Linked DNA regions of Homo sapiens. The protein of the gene in region 6 purifies or fractionates together with the protein of the main gene of each other region. This does not show direct contact. Each region holds a gene or a part of one and is shown on either strand. Other genes may lie near its edges.

Region 1 (3,500 bases), on a different chromosome or scaffold from region 6:
CATGTTATTGACAATCAACAAAGGTGGCGGGATCCCTGGAACAACAACAACAACAAAACATTGCTAGTATCTCTTTCTATCACTAAGAAATGTTCAAATTCTAGTAGCCTTAATTTCTACTCTATGTGCAGGGATGTCCTAGAGATCAGCCTAAAGTCGTTCATAATTTCTTTGAGGAATACAAAAGAAATCTAGAATTAAGAAGGTCCCATTTTACTGCTTGCCACACATAATGGGCAGAGTCCTTCATATGAGCCCTTTAGGCAAAGGAAAAAAATCAGCAAGCATGTATTGATGGTCAGCAATGTAAATAGCACAGCGTTAAGCATCAAAGGAGATGCAAATAAGCCTATGAATGGTCCTTGCCAAAGAAGGACTTATATTTCCGTTTTATGTCACTGTTGGCTTTTGTTCTGACATTGGGTTTGGGATTTAGTGACTGTCTTTCTCCTGGTTGTAATATTTATTCGGTGGTGGGCATGGCTTATGGGTGTGCTTTATGAAGTTTTTGCACCTGCAACTCAGGTCAGTACCTTTCTTAAAAGAACACAAAAGAAATAAACTTGAAACAGTCCAAGTGATTTTAGATATGGGCAATGGGTCAACCTCCAGTTGATATATGTCACTGAGGGCCCTGTGTTTGCCCAGGCAAGCGTTTCCTTGGTGCAGTGATGAAAATCCCAATGCACAGGTGAAATTAAGAAATAACTTAATAATGGAGTAAAATGGTAACTTTAATTTAATGACCTTTACAAGGTAGCTAAGTATTTCCTTGTATAAATTTGATCTGTGTTACTTGAGTAGGCTATTCTAGATAGGCTTCTTTTTCTTTTGTGGTTACAACTAGACTACAGGCTATCATAGTGTTCATTTTCCCTGCCGTCACATTTCTTGACACACAGTTAGGTGCTTTTGGTTACTGATAGGAGCATTGGGATTCAAATATTCTTTTTTCCATGTCTCTGTGTTCTCTGGTTTTCTGGAGTGACTGGGAGCAATGCTGCAATTGAGCCTGGACAATCCAGGATAGGCAAAGTTTTGGCTCAGTCTTCACCTTGCCACTTTACCTTTGATGATTATACTGAGAAATAAAGGGTCTTCAGAACCAAATAGGGGCAAAATAGAATTCTTCTGTATATTTCTATCAATCAGAGGAGAATTGTGTGCACAAACCTTGGTCTTCCTATGCACCTATCCATCTGACTCTACTCTAGCTAGATTTTCCTTGCTAGCAGATAACAGGATTTGTACCGTAGCTTCAAATTAACACTGGATTCATTCCTCATTGAAACAGAGCAGAGTAATTCTCAGAGCTTCTCTACATCACATGAAGGCTTGGAAGAAGATAAAGACCATCCAACAACTTCTACTCTGACATCAAGCAGTAAGGATTATAAAACCTAGTTGGCTTCAGCTATTGATAAGAATCAATCAATTATGGGTACTTTTGCAGTGTCTTTGGTGGAGGTGCATCCATTAGCTGCCGTTACACTGTTACTTTTAATCAAAAGGTGCGTCTGGTGGTGGTTCTCTGATTTTTCTGTTTTATATACCTCTTCGTACATTAAGTGCAAACTACATTTCTTCATCTTAAAAGTTGGGTTTCTTTCACTCTAGAGTTAGTGATTTGTTTTAACAATAATGGATTGCTTATATATGATTTATTTTATTTATTTATTTTTGTTAACTTGAGATCTTTCTAACTTTTTTATGTGGGCGTTTAAATTTAGTGCTATAAATTTCCCTCTTACTACTGCCTTAGCTGTGTCCCAGAGATTCTGATATGTTGTATCTTTGTTCTTATTAGTTTCAAAGAACTTCTTGATTTCTGCATTAATTTCATTATTTACCCAGAAGTCATTCAGGAGCAGGTTATTTAATTTCCATGTAATTGTATGGTTTTGAGTGAGTTTCTTAGTCTTGATTTCAAATTTGATTGCGCTGTGGTCCAATAGACTGTTTGCTATGATTTCAGTTCTTTTGCAGTGTGATTTATAATTGGCGTAAATGTCTGATTATATCACTTTACATTCCTCACAATAATATTGTTTTGCCTTTTGTCCTCTGGACCTCCATGGTGCTGATGACTAAAAAGCAGTCCCTTCTGGAAAAGAAAAGAATAATTAAATTAGTAGCCTCAGGCCTTTGAAACCATGCATTTGCTATTTTAATTGCAGGCAGCAAAATTTTATCTTTCAATCCAATGATATGTTTCCTCCACTACATCAAAGATGAATCCAATTGAGAAAGAACTCAAGATTATCTAGTACCTCAGCTGACTTCAAGATCACAGTTGTAGTGACATAGCCTTACCTAATAACCCAAGCAGATGTTGCAACAAATGCCAATTCTGGGTATTAAGATCACCAAAATCTCTTCTGTTGAGTGATGTCCAAGTAGTGTCTATTGCAAAATATTTATTCTGTTCAATAGTATGACAAACTTCACTCTATTTCTCCCTATTTATGGATAACAAGTGGAAAGCTTTTGCAGCAATTGTGTGTTCTGGAGACAAGCACATGGTGGGTGGTGATCTTACAAATACGGGTTCATCACTGATTCCACCTCCACACAGATAGGAATGATGTCACAGGTGGAAGAAGAGACCCAAATCATTCTGAAGGCTCAACTACTTTACTGGAAGGTTATACCTCTCATTACCCACACACGAAGGAAAGCAGGACCTTCATCCCAGTGACCTCAGCTAAGACTGGGTCCTTTGGAGTTACTGCAGTTACTGTTGGAGATTCCAACTCTAATGTCAATCGTTCCTTATCAGGTAATTTGGCATTTATTATCTAGTTTGCTTTCTCTATATAGAGAAACAATATATAGTTTCATATTACAGAGGACATTTTCTGTGTAGTCTGGGATTGGACTAGTTTGTGATATGGAAATATCTTTCATTATTGGTTATCAATTCTAGTGCAAATAAACTTGGGTATATTTTAGATAAAAGAATGCTTCCTTTTGCCAGTGTTTTTTCCATTTGTCTGTGTTTGCATGTGTGTGTGTGTGTGTGTGTGTGTGTGTGTTGTGTGTACAAGTTGGCTGTTATGATGGAATTGCTTTCTTTGTCTTATCTTGTGATATATGAAGTTGAACCACATGAAACTGATATTTTTGCAGGTGAAAGTAGTCGAATTTTAGCAATTCCGTTTAATTCGACTAATATACTCTACTTATTTTGTAAGGTTTTATCCTACAGGTGAATAATTTCTATATACTAGTATCTTTGCTCTGAAATTATTATCTTGTTTTGGTAATAGATTGATCAGTTTTACTTTTGGTGATGGATAAACCTCTTCTAGTTCTGATGCACACTTAAAATGTTCATGATTTAATCTAGTATTAATGAATAGGGACCACTTCTCTTATTGTAATAGTGAAGAGAGGAACGAAGATAATTTATTCAATGAAGTTTGACACGGACCTAGAATAAGTCTTTTTTTTTCTCAAATAAGTAGTCATCTCTGCTTCTGCTTTTCTTTGCTTCTCCA
Region 2 (4,059 bases), on a different chromosome or scaffold from region 6:
GAGCTGTGATCGTGCCACTACACTCCAGCCTGTGTGACAGAGACCCCCGTCTTAACAAAGCAAAACAAAACAACAATAACAAAAGGGCTGTAAAGGGCATTATTGGGACAACCGCGGGAAACTGGAGATGGAAAATAGATAACAGCATTGAACTGATGTGGTCATTGTATTTTGGTAATATAGGAGGTTCTTGTTCTTAAGGAGTTGGATACCGAAGTATTTGGGAGGGGGGTATCACGGTATCTGCAGCTAATGGTGGGGGCTGAGTGGGGAGGAAAAAAGAAAAATACACATATATAAACACAGAGGGAGAGAAATGAAACGTGGCCAGCTGCTCACCCCTGCTGAACCTAGGAATCTGCGTGCTCACTTTACGTTCAACTTGTTTGTATGCTGAACATTTTTCAAAACAAAAAGGTGCAGGGAAAAAAGAAAACATGATGTCTCTCTGAGGGCCACAGAGACGTGGCAACCAGATCGCTCTGACAGTAAGGCCTGTTACCCGAGCTGTTGGGTGTGGGGTCAGCAGACACCTTCAGCTGCCCCCTCCTCCAGGGCTGCCTCGCCCCAGGTCATGCCCTCGCAACGTGGCCCGTGCGTCCGGCTCGCACTGTGGCTCAGCTTCTCCCTTTGCCCAGTCCTGCTGCTCCCTCCCCTCCCGTCCTCGCACAGGTGTGCCCCCCTAATAAGCAGGCCACCCAGACTCCATCTCGGGTCACTTTGGCGGTCTCCCAGCGGCGAGCCTTCCCTGACACCCATGTGTTTACCTGATCGTTTATGGAGGATCCTCTTCGCCCCGGGACGTGAGCCCTAGGACCAAGAACTGTGTCTGTTTTGCTCCTTGCGGTGCACCGGCGCCTGGACATACGCTCCATCAATGTGCGTCGCGAGCCGCTGAAGCCCCATTTGCCGAGGGGGAAACTGAGGCACGATGATCCAGGTGATGAGCCTGGCGCGTTCTCCGCGCGGCCCACGTGGCCACTCCGCCACGCCCCACCCCCAGCTGGTCAGCTGGGATCCCGAAGAAGCGCCAGAGGCTGCGCCCACCCACTAGGGCCCGGGCGGGCCGGTGGGGCGGCAGGGCGGGGCCTGGGCCGTCAATCTCGAGTCCGGCCGCTGCCGAATGGCGGGCGCGGTGGGCCCGGAGTCAGCTCAGGCTCCTCGACCAATCACGGGGCGCGGAGCCGCCGGGCGTGCAGGGTCCGCCTCCGATTGGCAGGCAATCGCTGACATCATCCGGGGGCGGGCGCCCCTGCCCTGCGGGTGACTCCGACCCCTGGCTAGAGGGTAGGCGGCGTGGAGCAGCGCGCGCAAGCGAGGCCAGGGGAAGGTGGGCGCAGGTGAGGGGCCGAGGTGTGCGCAGGTGAGTGGCCAAGGTGTGCGCAGGTGAGGCCAGGGGAAGGTGTGCGCAGTGGGGGGCGCTTGCCCAGGTGAGCAGGTGCCCACTCACAGGGCGAGGGTGGGGTCAGGGGTAGGGGGCGTGCGCGCAGGTGGGGAGAGGGTCCAGCTCACAGGCGAGGGGCCGCTGGGGCTCCGGGGAGGCGGGGCGGAGGCGTGGATAGTCCCCCTCCCCCACGAGCCGGCGTCTGAGGGATGCTCTGTCCCCGCGCTGTCTGGAGCTTCCCCGGGCGAAGGCTGCCTGGCTCCGGGGTCGGCTCCTGGCCCCATGCCGCGCTCCGCGGCGGCTCTTTCTCCTGCCCCACCTGTTGTTCGCCTCCCTCTTTGTCAGTGCTGAGCCAGGCACAGCAGCTTTGCGATGGGACTGGCTTGTCCGCCGTCCTCCCTGACATGCGGCTGTTGAAGCCCTGAGCACTGGACCTTCTGCCTCTTGCTTGACTCCTACTGTGGGCCTTGAGCTTCTGCCCTCTCCTGAAATGTCAGCTGCCTGCGGTCTTATTCATTTTTGTGTTCCTTGCAGGACTTTAGCCGGTTGAGAAGGATCAAGCAGGCATTTGGAGCACAGGTGTCTAGAAACTTTTAAGGGGCCGGTTCAAGAAGGAAAAGTTCCCTTCTGCTGTGAAACTATTTGGCAAGAGGCTGGAGGTAAGTGTATCTCAGTGCCCTGGATCGTGGGCGCAGGCTATGGCTTCACAGCGTTGAAAGTACAGACAGACTGGTCCACCAGCTCTCGAGTGCCAACGACTGTCTGTGCCTCTTATGAGTAAAATACAACATACCAGGGCACCTCCCCTTTGTCTGTTCCCAGCCGTCTATTGGGAAGGATGTTACTTAGATGTTTATTGCACAACTCAATGCTTGTGGCTAAAGAGCTGACTCCTGGGTGAATGAACTCTGTAATAAGCTAAAAGTACTTCTTTGGTCTTGTTTTAATCCCTTTTGACAACATTCTCCCAGTGGCTTTTTCACACTTTAGTTCTGAGGTTACACATCCCCTGACCCTTTTGCAATTTCCCAGTGTTTTACATAATTGATAATGTTGGTACCAGGCATTGTCCCCTTGTAGCTTATCCATGGCTTGGGGCAAGACGAATGCCACCCCATTCTACTTAGCCTTCCTGTAAGGCAAGTGTGCATGTGGGTGGTCTGGATTAACACCAGTCAGTGTGGGAACTAGGGATCGGAGGGAGTGGGGGCACTGAGCTGGTAAGTTTTGGCTGGGAAGAAACTAAGCTTGTATCTTACCTTGATGAGAGCCTGGGGGAGAGGAACTGTCTAAAGCAAGCCAGCTTGTCCAGGTGGCTGTGATCTTGAGATCAGACTCACTAGCGTGTCAGCTTTTCTCAGAAGTAGTTTTCTTTCATCCACTTTGATTTTACAGATATAAGGAGAGTGACTGGCACTCGCCAGGCTCTGTATTCAGTATTTGGGGCCGGAGAGAGACACGGTCTCTTCCTATCAAGAACTCTTCGTCTTGTTTTGTGCATCATAGGAACTGCATAAACTAACTTGTGTAAATTGAATGAAGTGCGGGTACTGAAGTTCTCACACTGCATAAGGAAAATGTCTTTCATCGTTGAAATTTTTTAAATGTGTGTGAATTTTTATTAAAGTAATTCATGCACACATTTTTTTAAAAATCAGTGTTAAAAGGCTTCAGAAGAAATACTCTCTACCACATCCCACATCCGACAGTCTTGCTTGCCAGCAGCAAACACTTTTCATTCTTTCAGCTACTTTTGTGTTGTTGTTTGTACCTACTTGTTTCTAAGTAATTTCCTTTTAGTACCCCTAACTTTGCAAATTCCCTTCTGTGCATACAATAGTCAATAAATAGTCAGAGTATACATTGTTATGACAAAATTACCATTATTCACTGTTGAGCCAAGTAAGGTCCTATAATAATGGCTTGGTTTCTTTTTTTCCTTCCTTATATGACTTTTTATTTTTCCTGGAGTTAACAGTTGCCTTCCTTTTTTTTTTTTTTTTTTTTTCATTTGGTAAGGTTTCTATGCATCTCTCATTCATTTTTTTCTGGATGCTCTAACCGAGCTGTCACATATATCAATAATTTTCCTACACATTCAGATGCAACAAAATTCATCATTTTCATTTCCTCTCTTTCCTAGCCATTCATCTTGTACCAATGTGGACTGGTTTCTGGTTAGTCCTGCTGCATAGCTGTCCTCTTGGGACTTGCCCCTGCCCTTTTGTGGACATGGCTTCAGCAGCTCTCTTGGGTCTCCAGTTTCCTGGATCCTATGTTGTTGTCCTTGAGTAATAGTTCACATAGGAGTAGAATTCTAGGTTGCAAAAAGTTTTCCTCAAAATTTTGAAGTTTTTCATCATTGTCTTCTAGAATCCAGCTTGCTGTTGAGAAATCTAAGCCTACTGTGATTTTTACTCCTGTTTTTTCTCTAAAAGCTTTCAAGAGCATCTTTTAAAAAATCTCAGATATTTTAAAGCTTCACAGTTATGAACTTGTTCTGGAAGTGGGGATGTCACTGCTTCCCCCAAATTATAACCATGTAGAGCAGCTGTGGGTACCTAGAGACATTCTGTGTTCTCTTCCCCTTTTTTTTGAAGGGTGATTATTGATGGTCCTACATGGGCCACTGTTCTAGGCCCTGGTAGTAGAACAATGAAGAGGACACACAATTC
Region 3 (2,876 bases), on a different chromosome or scaffold from region 6:
TGAGAAGACACAGTTCCTTTAATCAGGAAATTAATATCCATAATTTTCACTCAAAATTGCAGTATGTAAAGCAGATTCTCAAAAACTCTCCTGAACACTTATTTATATATATGTTTTTATATAAGTAAAATTTTTCTCATATTTTTATACGATATGCACACACACACATACATGCACATACTACTTACTACATGTTCTGTACTTGTACTTTGTACCATGCATATTCAAATGTTTATATACATAAGTTTATTATAACATAAACAGTAAAAGTAATGAATACTGTTTAAAATAACTAATATAGTATTTTTTAATTTTTGTGGGGATGGATTCTCAAATACTTGTGATTTTAAAAGATTCTAAAGCTAAAACACAACTTGATTTTAAAAAGAATGATTCTCCTTACACAATTATAAATATTTGCAGTAAATATTTTCCTTATAATACTGTTTTGACCCCATTTAAAAAGTATTAGATTATATTCCTTTGATCCAATGAAAACTGAACCTTATAAATGGTTAGCTGAAAGTAGACCTTATTCTTGTCCTTCTTTAGAAGAGTAAAGATTTGTCCTAGGGAAGATGGCTGACTTCGGTTCCCAACATGCGTATGCATTTAGACTGTAGCTCCTCAGCCCTGTGGACACAAAATTTGGACAGCTTATTAGGTTACGTTAGCAATGCATGACGGTTTCTCCAACACTAAGATATTCACGTTGAAACAGATTTCCTGTTCGTCTTATGTGTCTGGTAAAATTGTTTCCCCAATTACAATTTGACATATCAATAGAGGGTTAACAAGAGTATAATTACATAACAGAATTCCTCATGAACTGTAATCAGTCTACAGGAAAATCATTATTTTATCTTGATTTGCAGATGAATATACTGCTAAGAAAGGGAGCAACTCTGACCTTTGTTAAAGTTGATCTTTTGTAATTGAGGTATAAGGTATGAAAAGATAAAAAACCGAAGGCCAGAGAATCAGGAAATGAAAGATAGTATGGACTGAAGGTAACAATATTTTAATGTTATGCAATATAGTCAGAGAAATATTAAAAATTAGTTGTTTGCTGTGCATAGGTGGATCTCGCAGGAAGCTAATGAAACCTAAGCTTCAGTGCCTCTCACTTAGACATGTTCCATTCGAGGTCCTGAACCTAACTTTGTATTAGGAATTCTGTACTAATTTTGTTGAAGAAGACCAGCAAAGTTGTGTACACTTCTACCCCCACAAAATCTGCATTGTCCATGTGAGTAAAGTAAAATAATTCCTGTTATTTTTTTCTGTTAGAAATAAGTATGGAGGATATGTTTTTAAAAATTTATGAGTTAATTGAAATATCCATATATAACAAGTGACTTTCTCACAATATATATGATGTGATATATAGGGAGATAGTTTCACTTTCATCATATTTTATACGTTGATTCTGAACTATAGAAAAATAATAAATGGGATTTTAATTATAGCTCTTAGTTGGGAAAGAAATATAGAGAGATGTGGGATTTGAATGCCCATGAAAGACATTTTATTTTACTTGAATATATTCTTGCTTCACTTTACCCTCCATAATATGTTGTACATTAGTGCTGATCAAGTTTACAGAGTTACATTTTGCTTTCCTAACCATTCAGTCAGGAATTAAAATATGGCATTGTATAACAACTGGGAAGAAGCTCATAGTGGATATAAATTAGAGTAGATAATGGGTCACCTTGATAGCCTCTGTTTACATTACTTGTATATGGGCAAAATAATTATTACCTATACGTGTATTTAAGCTTAATTTTCATATAAACAGTATTTTTAATCTATGTTAAAATAGATAATATCTAAAAGTGTGATCTCTAGGTAGTCCTTAGTTTATTAGTACTGTACTTCAAAAAGATTTTTAAATAGGTCCGGCACGGTGGCTCATGCCTGTAATCCCAGCACTTTGGGAGGCTGAGGCGGGCGAATCACCTGAGGTCAGGAGTTCGAGATCAGCCTGGCCAACATGGTGAAACCCTGTCTCAACTAAAAATATAAAAATTAGCCGGGCGTGGTGGCAGGCGCCTGTAATCCCAGCTACTCGGGAGGCTGAGGCAGGAGAATCACTTGAACCCAAGGGGCAGAAGCTGCAGTTAGCCAAGATCGCATCATTGCACTCCAGCCTAGGGGACAAGAGCGCGAGACTTCATCTCAAAAAAAAAAAAAAAAAAAAAAAAAGATTTTTAAATAATAGCTAAAGGTATGCTCTCTAGGTCATCCTTAGTTTATTAGTACTGTACTTAAAAATTATTTTTTAATAGTCAATTTTGGGAGATAATTATTTCTTTCCTTATATTTTCCAATTAGTTGGTGTCTAAAAATAAATGTTTTGTCTAATTTTAGATCAGGTATACATTCACAAAAGCATAAATCATAGTCTCACAGGAAATTCACCAATTTTCCATATGTCGTGAGATAACTGTCCTTTCTACAACCTCATAACAATGAATTTATATAATTACCTAGATTTTCTTAGTGTGAATCTACCCATTAGTTTTATTTTCTTGGTAGTTATTTTTTTCCCTCCTCTCTGTTACTATTGGCCTTAAAATACACAGAGGACGGTTACAGTGTCCTAATAGCTGTTACATGTGTGTGTTTCAGCGTACTTGAATCAAGTGTACATTTATAGTACCAATAACCGCCTTTACAGCTTTACAGTTAACAATTCTCTCACAAAACTGTAGAGCATTAGGCATCTGAGAGCCATAGAGGGCCAACTTTGTTCCAGAGTGAACATGCTTTTTTTCCTCAACATATACACTACTGATTTTTTTTAAAAGTATGACTTTCAAGTGAATTAATGTATTGGTTAGGAGAACTGCTTGCTAAGTCCTTATTACCTC
Region 4 (3,500 bases), on a different chromosome or scaffold from region 6:
TGGTCTTGATCTCCTGACCTTGTGATCCGCCTGCCTCAGCCTCCCAAAGTGCTGGGGATTACAGGCATGAGCCACCGCGCCTGGCCTTTTTATTTACTTATATATTTATTTATTTATTTATTTATTTATTTATTTATTTATTTTGAGACGGAGTTTTGCCCCAGGCTGGAGTGCGATGGCACAATCTCGGCTCACTGCAACCTCTGCCTCCCGTATTCAAGCGATTCTCCTGCTTCAGCCTCCCGCGTAGCTGGGATTACAGGCATGCGCCACCATGCCCAGCTAATTTTGTATTTTTAGTAGAGACAGGGTTTCTTCCATGTTGGTCAGGCTGGTCTCGAACTCCCAACCTCAGGTGACCCGCCCGCCTCGGCCTCCCAAAGTGCTGGGATTACAGGCATAGCCACTGCTCCTGGCCCCTTTTGGCTTTTATTCAGAGTGAGATGGGAACCCTTGGAGGGTTTTGAGTAGATACAGTGGGACTCCTCTTTGAACAGGGCCCACTCTAGCTGCACATGGACAACATATTGTGGGGGATGGGGGTAGCAGTGAGGCCAGTTTTGAGGCCATTGTTGTCATCTAGCTAAAAGGTGGCTGGGCAGTGGCACGCTTATGAGCTGTGGCTGGGTTGAGGCCACAGATACTAAAGGTGGAGCCAGCGGGATTTTCGGGCTGACCAGATGGGGGCATAACAGAGAATGTCAAGAGTGACCCCAAGCTGATATGGTGGCTCACACCTGTAATCCCAGCACTAATTCCAGCACTTTGGGAGGCTGAGGCGGGCGGATCAGTTGAGCCCAGGAGTTCGAGACCAGGCTGTGCAACATGGCGAAATCCTATCTCTACTAAAAATTAGCTGGGTATGGTGGTACATGCCTGTAGTCCCAGCTACTTGGGACGGTGAGGCAGGAGAATCACTTGAACCCAGGAGGTAGAGGTTGCAGTGAGCCGAGATTGCGGCACTGCACTCCAGATTGGGTGACAGAGTGAGACCCTGTCTCAAAAAAAAAAAGGAAATCCCCCACCTTGCAGCCATCAGAAGAATCAAATAATTGATTTAGGTTAAAATCATCTATGTATGCTAAAGCTCTTAGGACCGCAAGCTCACATCACCATGCCTGGCTAATTTTTTTTTTTTTGGAGACAAAGTCTCGCTCTGTCACTCAGGCTGGAGTGCAGTGGTGTGATCTCGGCTCACTGCAACCTCTGCCCCCGGTTCAAGCAATTCTCCTGCCTCAGCCTCCTGAGTAGCTGGGACTACAGGCGTACGCTGCCACGACTGGCTAATTTTTTTGTATTTTAGTAGAGACGGGGTTTCACCGTGTTGCCCAGGCTGCTATCGAACTCCTGAGCTCAGGCAATCCACCCGCCTCGGCCTCCCAAAGTGCTAGGATTACAGGCATGAGCCACCGTGCCTGGCAATTTTTTATATTTTTAGTAGAGATGGGGTTTTGTCATGTTGGCCAGGCTGGTCTTGAACTCCTGACCTCAACTGATTGAGTGAGATTACTGGGGAACAAGACATCTCAAAGTGCCATGCCACAGATTACTTATTAATTATAGGGGAAAAAGGGACTCTACAAGGTACAGAGGTCCCCAGAGGATCCAGCATTACAGGCAAATAGCAAGAACACACAGCTCTGTGGTGTCCCCGCCTGAACGCTCAGTTTGAAACTTTCTGAGGACCACCAGGGAGATCCACATTGAGGAGCTCTGTGCGAGGCTGCTGGCTCGAAGACTTCCAAAATGTCAAGGTCAGCCAGGCACAGTGGCTCATGCCTATAATCCCAGCTCTTTGGGAGGTCAAGGCGGGCAGATTGCTTGAGCCCAGGAGTTCAAGACTAGCCTGGGCAACATAGTGAGATCTGTCACTACTAAAAATAAAAAAGTTAGTTGGGCGTAGTGGCATGCACCTAGTATTCCCAGCTACTAAGGAGGCTAAGGCAGGAGGATTACTTGAGTCCGGGAGGTTGAGGTTGCAGTGAGCTGATCATGCCATACTACTCCAGCCTGGGCTACAGAGCGAGACCCTGTCTTGAAGAAAAAAAAAAAGTCAATGTAATAAAAGACCACAAAAAACAAGGCTGGGCACGGTGGCTCACGCGTGTAATCCCAGCACTTTGGGAGGCCGAGGTGGGCGGATCACGAGGTCAGGAGATCGAGACCATCCTGGCTAACACGGTGAAACCCCATCTCTACCAAAAATACAAAAAATTAGCCGGGCGTGGTGGCGGGCGCCTGTAGTCCCAGCTACTCAGGAGGCTGAGGCAGGAGAATGGTGTGAACCGAGGAGGCGGAGCTTGCAGTGAGTCGAGATCGCGCCACTGCACTCCAGCCTGGGCGACAGAGCGAGACTCCGTCTCAAAAAAAAAAAAAAAAAAAAAAGGATAAACAGACATAACCAAATGCCACGTGTGAAACTTGATTAGTTCCTATATGAGGAAGTATATCTGTAAGAACGTTATTTAGACACTTGGGAAAATGTCAATATAGACTATATATCAAGGTTCAGTTTCCCAAGTGCGACAATTCTATGGGGTTTTGTAGGAAAACTGTCTTTGTTCTTAGGCAGCAGCATGATTTCTGCCCCAGGGGAGGGGGGTGCCGAGAAGAGAATGGGAGAGAAGCAGATGTGGTAGATATCAACTTGGGGAGTCCAGAGGGCATGTGGATGTCATGTGCTATTCTTATAATTTTTGGTAGGTTTGAAATATTTTAAAACAAGTCTGGGCGCGGTGGCTCACGCCTGTAATCCCAGCACTTTGGGAGGCCGAGGCAGGCGGATCACCTGAGACCAGGAGTTCAATACCAACCTGGCCAACATGGTGAAACTCCGTCTCTACTAAAAATACAAAAATTAGTCGGGCGTGGTGGATTGTGCCTGTAATCTCAGCTACTTGGGAGGCTGAGGCAGGAGAATCACTTGAACCCGGGAGGCGGAGGATGCAGTGAGCTGAGATCGTGCCATTGCACTCCAGCCTGGGCAACAGAGCGAGACCCCTTCTCAGAAAAATTTAAAAAAATAAAAAGAAAAGAAATATTTTAAAACAAAACTTGGGAAAAATAAAGAGAGTGGGAGGAGAGAACTAGGAAGTCGTGAATACTGATACCTGTTTACAGAGTTTAGCTGTGAAGGGAAAGAAAGAAAGTCAGCCGTAGCTGGAGGGTGAGGTGAGGCCTCTGTAAAATGGAGAAATAAGGCTGGGCGTGGCAGCTCATGCCTGTAATGCCAGCATTTTGGGAGACCAAGGTGGGCGGATCACTTGAGGCCAGGAGTTTGAGACCAGCCTGGGCAACATGGTGAAACCCCGTCTCTACAAAAAATACAAACACTCGCCTATGGTGGTGTGTGCTTCTAGTCCAAGCTACTCGGGAGGCTGAGGCTCGAGGATCACGTGAGTCTGGGAGGTCAAGGCTGCAGTGAGCCATGATTGTGCCACTGCACTCCCTGTCTCAAAGAAAGAAAGAAAAAAAAAGATGGAGAAGCCGGGCGCGGTGGC
Region 5 (3,500 bases), on a different chromosome or scaffold from region 6:
TAGTCTTTATTCTCATTGAGCTACATTTGTTTGGCTAGGGGAAGCAGACCAAAAACAAAGTATGTGGTATGTGGAGTGATGCTAGGTGTTATAAAGAAGACCTTTAAAGTAGGGCTGTGGAAGGGGGATATAGTAGAGGGGGAGAGGGCTGTTTTATACACGTATAAATGGTATACACCATTTATACACGGTGGTCAGAGAAGCTCTGATCAGGTGACGTATGTACAGAAAGTCACTGTGGCCTGAGTAGAGTCAAGGAGAAGGAGCAGCAAGAGTTGAGCTTAGGGAGGTGGAGAAGGGGTGGAATAGATCAAGCAAGGCCTTGGCCCTGGTAGGGATCTGGGATTTTGAGTGAGAGGACAACCGTTGGGATGTTTTGAGCACAGAATGGTTGTAAGAAGACACGATTCAGGAGGACCACTTAGGCCTCTGTGTGGAGGGGGCAAGCGCTGCCACCCAGGCCCAGGAATGTCAGCACCAGGGTAGGCTCTGGGGACTGCACAGGGGTGATTGTTGCTGGAGACTTAAGTGGGAGGAGGAGAAGAGGGGCTGGAGATAGAGAACCATGGGAGGGGCCACATTCAGGAACTTACTGTGTCGTATCTGGAGGATAAGAAATAAGTAAGCCTTGGGCAGCATGGCACTATTGTTGCTTTCATGCACTGTGTCTGTAACCGGAGAAAAGTTATAGGGTGCGTCTATTAACCGATTGGCCTTTTGGTGAAAGCATTTTGAATACATTTAGAGATTTTGCCTATTAAATTGGCAAGTTCTAAAAATGGACTTACTACAACATAAATTTTTTGTTCTGACATTGCTGTTGGCTACATCTGCCATTTTCAAAACGGGTGGCAAGACATTAATTTTTTTGCTAATTGTGCAAAAGAATGTATAGCCTTATATTCCCATTAGAGAGAAAGTGCTGTGGACATTAGATTCAACTGATGTCCATTTATTCAAGAAATATAGTGTCTTGTATGGGCCAGCTATTAAGCTAAGTGTTGGGTATTTGGTATAGAACGAAAGAAAATAATTCATTCCTTTTAAAAGCTTATATCCTAGTGGGAGAGACAGCTATTAATCAGGTAAATATGTCCCATTCCAGCAGGTGTAGCTAAAAAAAAAAAAAAAAAAGACAAATTTAAAAAACATAAATATGTAAATTACAAGTTTAGTAAAGTGTTATGAAGGAATAAAAAAGATTCCATAATAGAGAACAATCCAGGTTATGAGAATCAACCAAGAAAGGGTGGTTAAGAAATGATCATATTCTGTTATTATGTAAAACAGCTAATATTTATTGGCTTCATATGGGTTAGGTATTATTTTAATCCCATTGCATGTAATTGTGCAGTTATTTGAAGATGGGGAAACTCAGACACTGAGGTGAAGAAACTACCCCAGGGGACAGGGAGTGATAAAGAGAGGCTGGTTAATAAGTACAGACATACAGTTAGGTAGAAGGAGTAAGCTGTAGTGTTCAGCAGCATGGTACTATGCTTAACAGTTTATTGTGTATTTTATTTTTTATGGTATATTTTAAAGTAGCTAGAAGATAAGATTTGAGATGTTCCCAGCACCAAGAAATGAGAAAAGTTTGAGGTGATGGATATCCTAAATACTCTGATTTGATCATCACACATCCTATGCATGTAATCCAAATATTACACATACCCCATAAACATGTACAATTATTATGTATTAGTTAAAAAAATTAAGGAAAAAAAAAAGAAACTAGCCTGGGATGATATAATGGTCAGTAGTAAAGTCAGGAGTCAAACCAAGGTAGTCTGGCTCTAGGGTCCATACTTTTGACCACTAGACAGCTTCGTTTTAAGCCGAAAGGGCTTTTGGAAGTGAACGTTGAACTGAAATGTGAAAGATGAGAAGCTGTAGTTTTCCTCCTGTGATGAAACATTTTTTTTTCTATTGAAAATGAACGTAGACTTAATACATCAAGTAAAACAATATAGCACAAAGACGCGTGAAGGCAAAGCTAATCATCTCCTCCTTTTAGTCCTACATGGTAAGATAACGAATTTTACAGCCAGGTGTGTGTCCTTCCACACTTTTCTTTTTGTTCATGTGTACACACTGGATAGATACATATATGGGGGTCTTATTTATTTTATCAAGTAGAATTATACTACACACGTGCTCTTAAACATGACAGCGTGTCATTGGTTTTACTATTGTGTGTATCAACAGATGTGGATTTAATGTTCTAATTTTATTTTGTAATTTCTAGGCACTTATATATGTGCTTACAAACATCTTATGACATTTAATAATCAATTATTCAGTGAAATTTATTAAACACTGTCAGTGCCCTCTAGTCAAAGACTGCCAGGAACATACCTCTAGTTGAACAAAGTTGGTCTTATTAACTCCCTGCAATGAAGGAGAATGCCTGTCCTAGGGAACGTTGGGGGTCTCTGTAACAGGTTGTTAGAAAGGACTTAGAAGATTCGAGATGATGTTAGGTGATTCGGGGAAGAGTTCAAGGAAGCAAAGCTTTGCTCAGTCTCGGGTGCTTCAGGAATAAGGAGGAGTGGGAATTCTGCAATTGGATATTTAAAATCTTAACGAAAAGGCAAGAGGTATGGAGTAAGGCTAAAGCTGTAATTGATAAAGAAGCAGCAATGCTTCATATTAGCCACGATAGGAAGATGTTTGGGCATTTTGTGGTTTGGGTGATGTTCATGTTTTTGTCTATGTTCAGATATGATTCCAGAGTAGTCTTATTTTTGTCTTCATATCCTGGTGACAGAGTGACCTTGTTTGATGTTGGCATTCTTTGAAATTGTTGCATTTATGTTAGAACACCAAGTCTGGCTGTGTGTGCCGGGTCAGTTCCCGACAGTCAGGGGCTGCTTTTCTCTCTCACCTCCTGTTGTGTAGGCATTGTGCTAGATATAAAGCAGATCCTGCTGCAAGAACTTCTAGTCTAAGGGAGATGTGGAGAGAGTGAGTAAAATGGAGAGGAGAGTTGAGTGTGATGTGAGCAGTCTACAACTAGATGTATACACAGGTGTGGAGGAGCCCAGGGCCTGGCCCAGCTTGGGGTAAGCAGCCAGTCAATGAAGGCTTCCAGAAGATCTGTTAGAGCCATGTTCTTAAGGATGGGTAGGAGCTGTTCAGGCATATATACGTGGAGAATGGACTTTCTAAGCAGAGGGGGCATTAAGTGCAAAGGTCTGGAAAGAACAAAGTGTGGGGCAGTGAAGGAGCTGCAAGTAGATCAGTCTGGCTGGAGCTGGAGGTGTAGATGTGACTATGTAGAGGGTGGGAGGGATGGGGCTGAGGAGGGGAGAAAGATAAGGCTGGAATGGTAAGATGGGGCCAGATTGTGAAGAATCTGCATGCCCTCATCATAATCAAGAATTGAACTTACTGAGTTTTCACTCTGCTCAGTGGAGAGCAAAGCTTTCCGTAGGAATTGTGTATTTGCATCTTTACAATGGCTTTAAAAGCCTTAGAAGGCGTAAGTTCCTTGAATA
Region 6 (3,113 bases):
GGCCCCACGCCTAGCTAATCTTTTAACATTTTTTGTAGAGACAAGGTCTCAGTATGTTTCCGGGGTTGTTCTTGAACTCCTGACATCAAGTGATTCTCCTACCTTGGCCTCCCAAAGTGCTGGGATTACAGTTGTGAGTCACCACACCTGGCCTGGAATCTGCATTTTTTATAAGACCCCTGGATAATTTCTTATGTGCATGAGAGCATAGGGTTGGGGGACTGAGTTTCGCTCTTGTCACCCAGGCTGGAGTGCAGTGGTGCGATCTCAGCTCACTGCAACCTCTGCCTCCCGGGTTCAAGAGATTCTCCTGCCTCAGCCTCCTGCGTAGCTGGGATTACAGGTGCCTGCCAACACGCCCAGCTAATTTTTGTTATTTTTAGTAGAGATGGGGTTTCACCATGTTGGCCAGGCTGGTCTTGAACTCCTGACCTCAGGTGATCCACCTGCCTTGGCCTCCACTGCACCTGACCTGGGGAGCTCTTAAGAATACTAATACCGGCCAGGCGCGGTGGCTCACGCCTGTAATCCCAGCACTTTGGGAGGCTGAGGCGGGCAGATCACAAGGTCAGGAGATCAAGACCATCCTGGCTAACATGGTGAAACACCATCTCTACTAAAAATACAAAAAATTAGCCAGGCGTGTTGGCGGGTGCCTGTAGTCCCAGCTACTCGGGAGGCTGAGGCAGGAGAATGGTGTGAACCCGGGAGGCAGAGCTTGCAGTGAGCCGAGATCGCGCCACTGCACTCCAGCCTGGGCAACAGAGCGAGACTGTTTCAAAAAAAAAAAAAAAAGAAAAGAAAGAAAAAGAAGAATACTAATGCCTTGGCTCTATACCCAGAATTTTTTTTTCCTTTTCCTTTTTTTTTTTTTTTTTTTTCCAGAGACAGGGTCTTACTCTGTCACCCAGAATGAAGTGCAGTGGTGTGATCCTAGCTCACTACAGTGCAGAACTCCTGGGCTCAAGGGATCCTCTCTAGTATTTGAGACTATAGTTGTGTGCCCACTTCCAGTGAATTTTTAAACATTTTTTAAAAGTGTTTATTATTATTTTATTATCTTTATTTTTGAGATTTATTTTTGTAATTCCAAAGCGCTGGGATTATGGGTGTAAGCCACCGCGCCCGGCCACCTAGGCTGGTCTTGAACTCCTGGCCTCCTCAAGTGATCCTCCCATCACAGCCTCCTGAGTAGCTGGGATTAGAGGCACTAGCCACTGCCCCAGCTATCCCCAGAAATTCTAATTTAGTTTGGCATCAATATAGTTTTAAGAGTATTCCAGATGATTTATAATGTGCAGTCAGGCATCGTCTTAAGAAAAAGAGGCATCATCAGACAGGGTGTATGCCAAAAAAAAAAAAAAAAAAGAAAAGATAATCGAATAATCTGCAGAGGGTGGTGTTTGGAGACTGGCAGCTGGGTCCCCTCTGGAGTGGCCCTGGGGAGTGACGCACAGAGGCAGCGTCCCAGAGCCATTTTGGCCCACTGCATTAATGCCCTCACCCCCTCCTGCAGGGTTGTGCAATAGCAAAGCAGCTGGGTGCAGAAATCTACCTGGAAGGCTCAGCTTTCACCTCAGAAAAGAGCATCCACAGCATCTTTCGGACGGCATCCATGCTGTGTCTGAACAAGCCTAGCCCACTGCCCCAGAAGAGCCCTGTCCGAAGCCTCTCCAAACGACTGCTCCACCTCCCCAGTCGCTCTGAACTCATCTCTTCTACCTTCAAGAAGGAAAAGGCCAAAAGCTGTTCCATTATGTGAAGTGGAAATTGGAGGGGGGAGACAACCCCCTACTTCCTCCCTTGGGGTGCAGAGGCACGGGGAGAGGGAGGATGAGACAATTTAGGACACTGGACATGAGTTTTTCAGATGGCCACGGTGAGGGCTTGGAAGGAGACAGGAATGGGGCGAGGAAGGAGCCAGGCCCGGCATGAGGACCTGACGCTGAGAGAGAACCATCATACCCCAAGCCAGGCACTAGATTTTGGAGGGGGCGACTACCCCAGTGCCCCCCCCGCTCCAGAGGAAGGAAAGCTGTGGGGGACGGGGGGCATGCTGGCCTCATGGGCTTGGGGGCCTACAGCAGCCTCACCTTCAGCTTCATGCCTCTTCCACACAGCGTTTCCATGCAGGTCAGGGGATGGGAGGGGTCCCTGAGCCCTTCCCTTCCCCTCTAAGGAGGCAGCAACGGAGAGTGGGGAAGTGGAGCGGCAGCTCCCTTGGGGGCTTAGCCCAGGTGCTTCGTAACTGCAATCGGAAGTGCAGGAGCTGGTCAGAGCCAATGAGAAGGAAACCTCATCTTTGCATAGCCCATGCCTCATGGAGAGGTGACATCATACATTCACATGCTTCTCACCTAAGTCCCCAGGGTCCAAGGGAGAAGCCCCAGACCCCCTTCTCTTGCAGAGTGTGGGGGTGGTGGTGCTGCAGGGGCAGGGCTGGGTGGGGGTCACCAGACTTTTTCTGCCCTTAGGGTAGTACAGCTGGCATTTGTTTTATAGACTCTTGTCTTTGGAATTGGGGGGAGGGGGGGAGTGTTTCAATCTGTTATATGTTCTGTGTTTAATGAAGAAAACCTATTTATTAATGAAAAATATAATACATATAAAGAATTTGGCTCCGTATTTTTTTCTGTTTTCTTTAGTTGTTACAATTGGTATTTTTTTTTTTTGGTCTTTTTTTTTTTTCCTTTTTGTGGAGAACAGGGTCTCGCTATATTGCTCAGGCAGGTCTCAAACTCCTGGGCTCAAGCTATCCTCACATCTCTGCCTCCCTAAGAGCTGGGATTACAGGCATGAGCCACCGTGCTTGAGCCCTTTGGTTGATGATAATGAGAGAAAAGCTGTCCTGGGACCCTTTCTGTGGGTTGCAGAGGGGCTGCCTCCACCATTCCCCAGCTCCTCCAAGAAGGAGCTTCTCTCTTCCCCCATCCCCCTGCCCTAGCCCCACCCAAGACCTACTAAACCAAGGAAGGGCTCCTTAGCCCGAGAGCAGGGGTGCAGGGGTTCTCAACCCTGGAACTATTGACATTTTGGACTGGATAATGCTTTGTTGTGAGGGACTGTCCTATGCAGCCCAAGATGTTTAGCAGTGTCCCTGATCTGGTGGATGC
Region 7 (3,500 bases), on a different chromosome or scaffold from region 6:
TTTGTAGAAGCTAGCAGTATTGAAGGTTTGTACTGGTGAGCTTTTGGTAGGTAAGTGAGGGCTATATTGCAGAGAAATTTAAATCCCAGAACTAAAAAAAAAAAAAAAAAAAGGAGTTTTGGCTTTACCCTTTAGAGAGAATAGAAAGCTATTCTCAAAGCATTAGAATATTAAAGTGATATTAAGAAAGTATGTTATAACATTTATCACTTATAGATAATAAACAAAATTAGTCATTCCCTCCACAAAATAAAAAAAAGTAATAGTTCTGTGTAATGTCAAATCAAAATGATCATATCTCTCTTGAATATGTTCTTTCTCATTTTCTCATCCTCTACTTCAGGTTTGGTAACAAAGAGGAATACATGGCATTCATGAATGATTTTTTAGAACATGAATGGGGTGGAATGAAGCGCTTTCTTTTGGAGATCTCTAATCCAGACACCATCTCAAACACCCCAGGCTTTGATGGTTACATTGATCTGGGCCGAGAGCTTTCAGTTTTGCATTCCTTACTGTGGGAAGTAGTTTCCCAACTTGATAAGGTAAAGTAGGTTGGTGGAAGATAGAGAACTTTAATGTACCTGAATTCTGGAAAGTAACTATAGAGTGATAGCACTCACTCTTTCTGCTAATTGAAAGCAACTGTTTACCCTAGAAATCTGAGAGTAAATGGTCATCATTTCTGAGTAAAATATGAGATCGACAACCATGAAACTCTAGAAAACCATGACATTATTAATATATGTTTTTAATAATTATCTGAATTAATGGAGTATATTTCTCTAAATTTATATATACAGAGTGCATATCTGAAAACTTGACTAGAAACTAATATATTGGTATATACAGCCTTATGCATGTCTAATAGGATAAGATGAAACCTCATATAGTAATTTCTAATAAAAGTATAGATTTAGCTAAGAAAATACTAGGTTTATCATGTTTTAAGTAACTACCCATGAAACAAATTTTTTTACTATACAAGTCATAGAGTTTCATATAATTATTAGTGCTAACAGTCATTGTTTTCTTTCTTTACAGATGTGAATTAAGAATACAGAAAGCAATTATTTTTAATCGTTTGCTAAGAATTTTATTATATACCGTATTAATAAGTAAATATACACCATGCCAATCATTTTCTTCCTTCTGGAATTTAACAAAAAGGAATAGATTTGGTAGTAAAAAATAGTCTAAAAGACGTTGGCTAGGCTTATTACAATAATTATTTATTGATGTTTTTGTTTGCTACAGGCACTTTATAAATATGTGTGGTGGTATGTTAGAATAACTTCAAAAGACAGTCATTTTTCTATGATAATGATCTACTTATTTTCCTCTATTTTCCTATCAATAAAAATGCTATATCAGTAAAATTTGAAGGGGAATAAAACCTATTAACAAAGACCACTTTGCTGAGGAAACATATGTGGTAATGTGTCCTCCAGTGCTTAAAATATTTGTAAAACAATAAACTGTTCCTTATTCTCGAGGACCTTTTCTTCACTTTTAGAAATGCTAGCTAGATTTTTAAGTTGCAGCTATGCCAAAGATAAACCCTTTTCATGTGAATCGTAGCCCAACATTATTGAGCAAGTAAAGGCCTTGGTGGCATCTATCCCTGTTTGAGTAGGGTAGAAGAGTCTGTTGATTGTTGAGAAGGCAAAGACCCAAAGGCAGCTATGCCAAACTGACTGACAGTTGAAGGGGACCCCTAAGACCCCATGAGAATAAGAATTCCCTAAATAAAAAAATGATTGAAATGGATAAAGCAAGTATTAAAGAGTTCGTCTTTGTTGAATAACTGCATCTCAGTGGAATGCAGATTCAGTTTTCCTGTGAAATGGGCCTGGTTTATTCAGGATCAAAGTCTTTTTAACGGGCTTTGCTATGTAAACACACTTTCTCCTTTTTAATCTGTGTTTGGTCCTGGGAACCAGGAATACATCTAGACATATCTCATAGAGGAAGTTTACCTGATTTTGCTGTTAAATTAACAATAAAAATTGTCTTACTGATGGAAACTCAGTTGGCAGTGGGTCAGGGTTCCCAAGATTGACTGGGATAGTGGATGGCAGTATCATCTGTGTGCCCTGCAGTACTCTGGATTCCTGAATGAGCACCTTCTTATATGTTGGCATGCATTTCTTTTCTCACATGATCCCTTTTCTTTGAAAGTTTATCATACTAGTTGATCCTCTGATCTTGAAGTTCTTTTGGTTAGAAGGAATTTGGTTCTGCCTCCACCCTCCCCCACCTTGATCTACTAGCCTCCCAAAGATTTAGTTTGCTTCGCATGCCTATTTTAGTTGGAATGGCATTAGTTTGGTAGTTTTGAGCATGTCTTTTAATTTTTACTTGCATAATCCTGATTTCGATTTCCTTTCTTTCCTCGATGTCTGCCGCACCTTGTTTCGCCTCCTCCATTCATCTCGACGCCATGGTTCTGCTGCTCCATAACAATGCATTATGAACCTGCCACTCCCATATGCAAACACTTACCCTTCCCTCCAACCTACACCCCTCCATCAATGGCCATCGTTGTGCCAAAAACAATCTGTGGTGGATGTCGCAATGCTTATTATCCAATTAGGGTGAAAATTCCTTCCTACAGGCGACCGTGGCAAAATTGGGGCCTCTCCCTCGTGTTCTTGCTGATATTACCAAGTCATTGACTAATCCTACGCCAATACAACAGCAACTGAGACGCTTCACTGAACATAACTCCAGTCCAAATGTCAGTGGAAGCCTCTCCTCTGGGCTGCAGAAAATATTTGAAGACCCCACTGACAGGTATGAAAGAGAGAATTTGACCACTATCTCGGAGAAACATAATGTTTAGATTTAGCAGAAGTATATTCAACCTATTTGTTGAATTTACAAGTTTAAAATCATGAGCAACTGAAGACTCATCTGACCTGAGAGCAGTCCAATTATTTGTCATAATAATGCACAAGATCTGGGATGACTTATTTTCTAGAATGGTAGTATAGAGAGTTACAATATATTCCACAAGCATATTTTTAAAATTTCTGTCTTGCTTAGTGGAAGACTAAAGGCTTTATGAAATTCATGTTTCTGTACGTTATAGCATTCAAAATCTTGGAGAACCTCGGTTAAAACCATTTTATAGCTGGCTATGTCAACTGGACAGGTAGATACAATGTCGATGCTTAGACTGTTTTAGGGATTGGCAAGACTTGTGCCTTTTGCAGGGACCTTTCAGTTGTGTGCTTAGAACTTCTTCTCTTGAAGGTTTAGACAAGTAAGTATGAATTGGAATATTTGGGGAAGGTTTAAAACCTAACTAGGAAATTATTGGAATCCTGGTTAAAACTGAAGACAGTGATGGGTTGGTATCTACAGTGTTATTCTGTACCTTTGGGGAAAAAGTAAAAATGCTGGATTTTATTCTAAGCATTGTAATAATTCCCTAATTAGATAAAATCTGAGTTTCCAAAGAAATGTACGTATCCACATAAGAACCTTCGGAGGAG

Evidence for each region.
Region 1: the proteins of RND1 (region 6) and CD44 purify together in Homo sapiens (affinity purification with mass spectrometry, with the first as the bait; one large-scale study listed by BioGRID). This does not show direct contact.
Region 2: the proteins of RND1 (region 6) and DHCR7 purify together in Homo sapiens (affinity purification with mass spectrometry, with the first as the bait; one large-scale study listed by BioGRID). This does not show direct contact.
Region 3: the proteins of RND1 (region 6) and SLC7A11 purify together in Homo sapiens (affinity purification with mass spectrometry, with the first as the bait; one large-scale study listed by BioGRID). This does not show direct contact.
Region 4: the proteins of RND1 (region 6) and PLEKHG5 purify together in Homo sapiens (affinity purification with western blotting, with the first as the bait; 2 studies listed by BioGRID). This does not show direct contact.
Region 5: the proteins of RND1 (region 6) and KIDINS220 purify together in Homo sapiens (affinity purification with mass spectrometry, with the first as the bait; one large-scale study listed by BioGRID). This does not show direct contact.
Region 7: the proteins of RND1 (region 6) and RASAL2 purify together in Homo sapiens (affinity purification with mass spectrometry, with the first as the bait; one large-scale study listed by BioGRID). This does not show direct contact.

The regions. Positions count from the first base shown.
Region 1 is NC_000011.10:35,208,671-35,212,170, forward strand, and holds part of CD44 (CD44 antigen isoform 1 precursor), read left to right. Parts: intron 1-947; exon of another isoform or gene 948-1,294; coding exon 1,295-1,384; exon of another isoform or gene 1,385-2,104; intron 2,105-2,575; coding exon 2,576-2,779; intron 2,780-3,500. UniProt on the Homo sapiens protein: Cell-surface receptor that plays a role in cell-cell interactions, cell adhesion and migration, helping them to sense and respond to changes in the tissue microenvironment.
Region 2 is NC_000011.10:71,445,594-71,449,652, reverse strand, and holds the start of DHCR7 (7-dehydrocholesterol reductase), read left to right. Parts: upstream 1-1,259; 5' UTR 1,260-1,363; exon of another isoform or gene 1,364-1,376; intron 1,377-1,918; 5' UTR 1,919-2,043; intron 2,044-4,059. UniProt on the Homo sapiens protein: Oxidoreductase that catalyzes the last step of the cholesterol synthesis pathway, which transforms cholesta-5,7-dien-3beta-ol (7-dehydrocholesterol,7-DHC) into cholesterol by reducing the C7-C8 double bond of its sterol core.
Region 3 is NC_000004.12:138,166,474-138,169,349, reverse strand, and holds part of SLC7A11 (cystine/glutamate transporter), read left to right. Parts: 3' UTR 1-2,876. UniProt on the Homo sapiens protein: Heterodimer with SLC3A2, that functions as an antiporter by mediating the exchange of extracellular anionic L-cystine and intracellular L-glutamate across the cellular plasma membrane.
Region 4 is NC_000001.11:6,478,168-6,481,667, reverse strand, and holds part of PLEKHG5 (pleckstrin homology domain-containing family G member 5), read left to right. Parts: intron 1-3,500. UniProt on the Homo sapiens protein: Functions as a guanine exchange factor (GEF) for RAB26 and thus regulates autophagy of synaptic vesicles in axon terminal of motoneurons. Involved in the control of neuronal cell differentiation.
Region 5 is NC_000002.12:8,831,114-8,834,613, reverse strand, and holds part of KIDINS220 (kinase D-interacting substrate of 220 kDa), read left to right. Parts: intron 1-3,500. UniProt on the Homo sapiens protein: Promotes a prolonged MAP-kinase signaling by neurotrophins through activation of a Rap1-dependent mechanism. Provides a docking site for the CRKL-C3G complex, resulting in Rap1-dependent sustained ERK activation.
Region 6 is NC_000012.12:48,856,645-48,859,757, reverse strand, and holds the end of RND1 (rho-related GTP-binding protein Rho6 precursor), read left to right. Parts: intron 1-1,516; coding exon 1,517-1,762; 3' UTR 1,763-2,613; downstream 2,614-3,113. UniProt on the Homo sapiens protein: Lacks intrinsic GTPase activity. Has a low affinity for GDP, and constitutively binds GTP. Controls rearrangements of the actin cytoskeleton. Induces the Rac-dependent neuritic process formation in part by disruption of the cortical actin filaments.
Region 7 is NC_000001.11:178,454,104-178,457,603, forward strand, and holds part of RASAL2 (ras GTPase-activating protein nGAP), read left to right. Parts: intron 1-343; coding exon 344-545; intron 546-2,596; coding exon of another isoform or gene 2,597-2,617; coding exon 2,618-2,796; intron 2,797-3,500. UniProt on the Homo sapiens protein: Inhibitory regulator of the Ras-cyclic AMP pathway.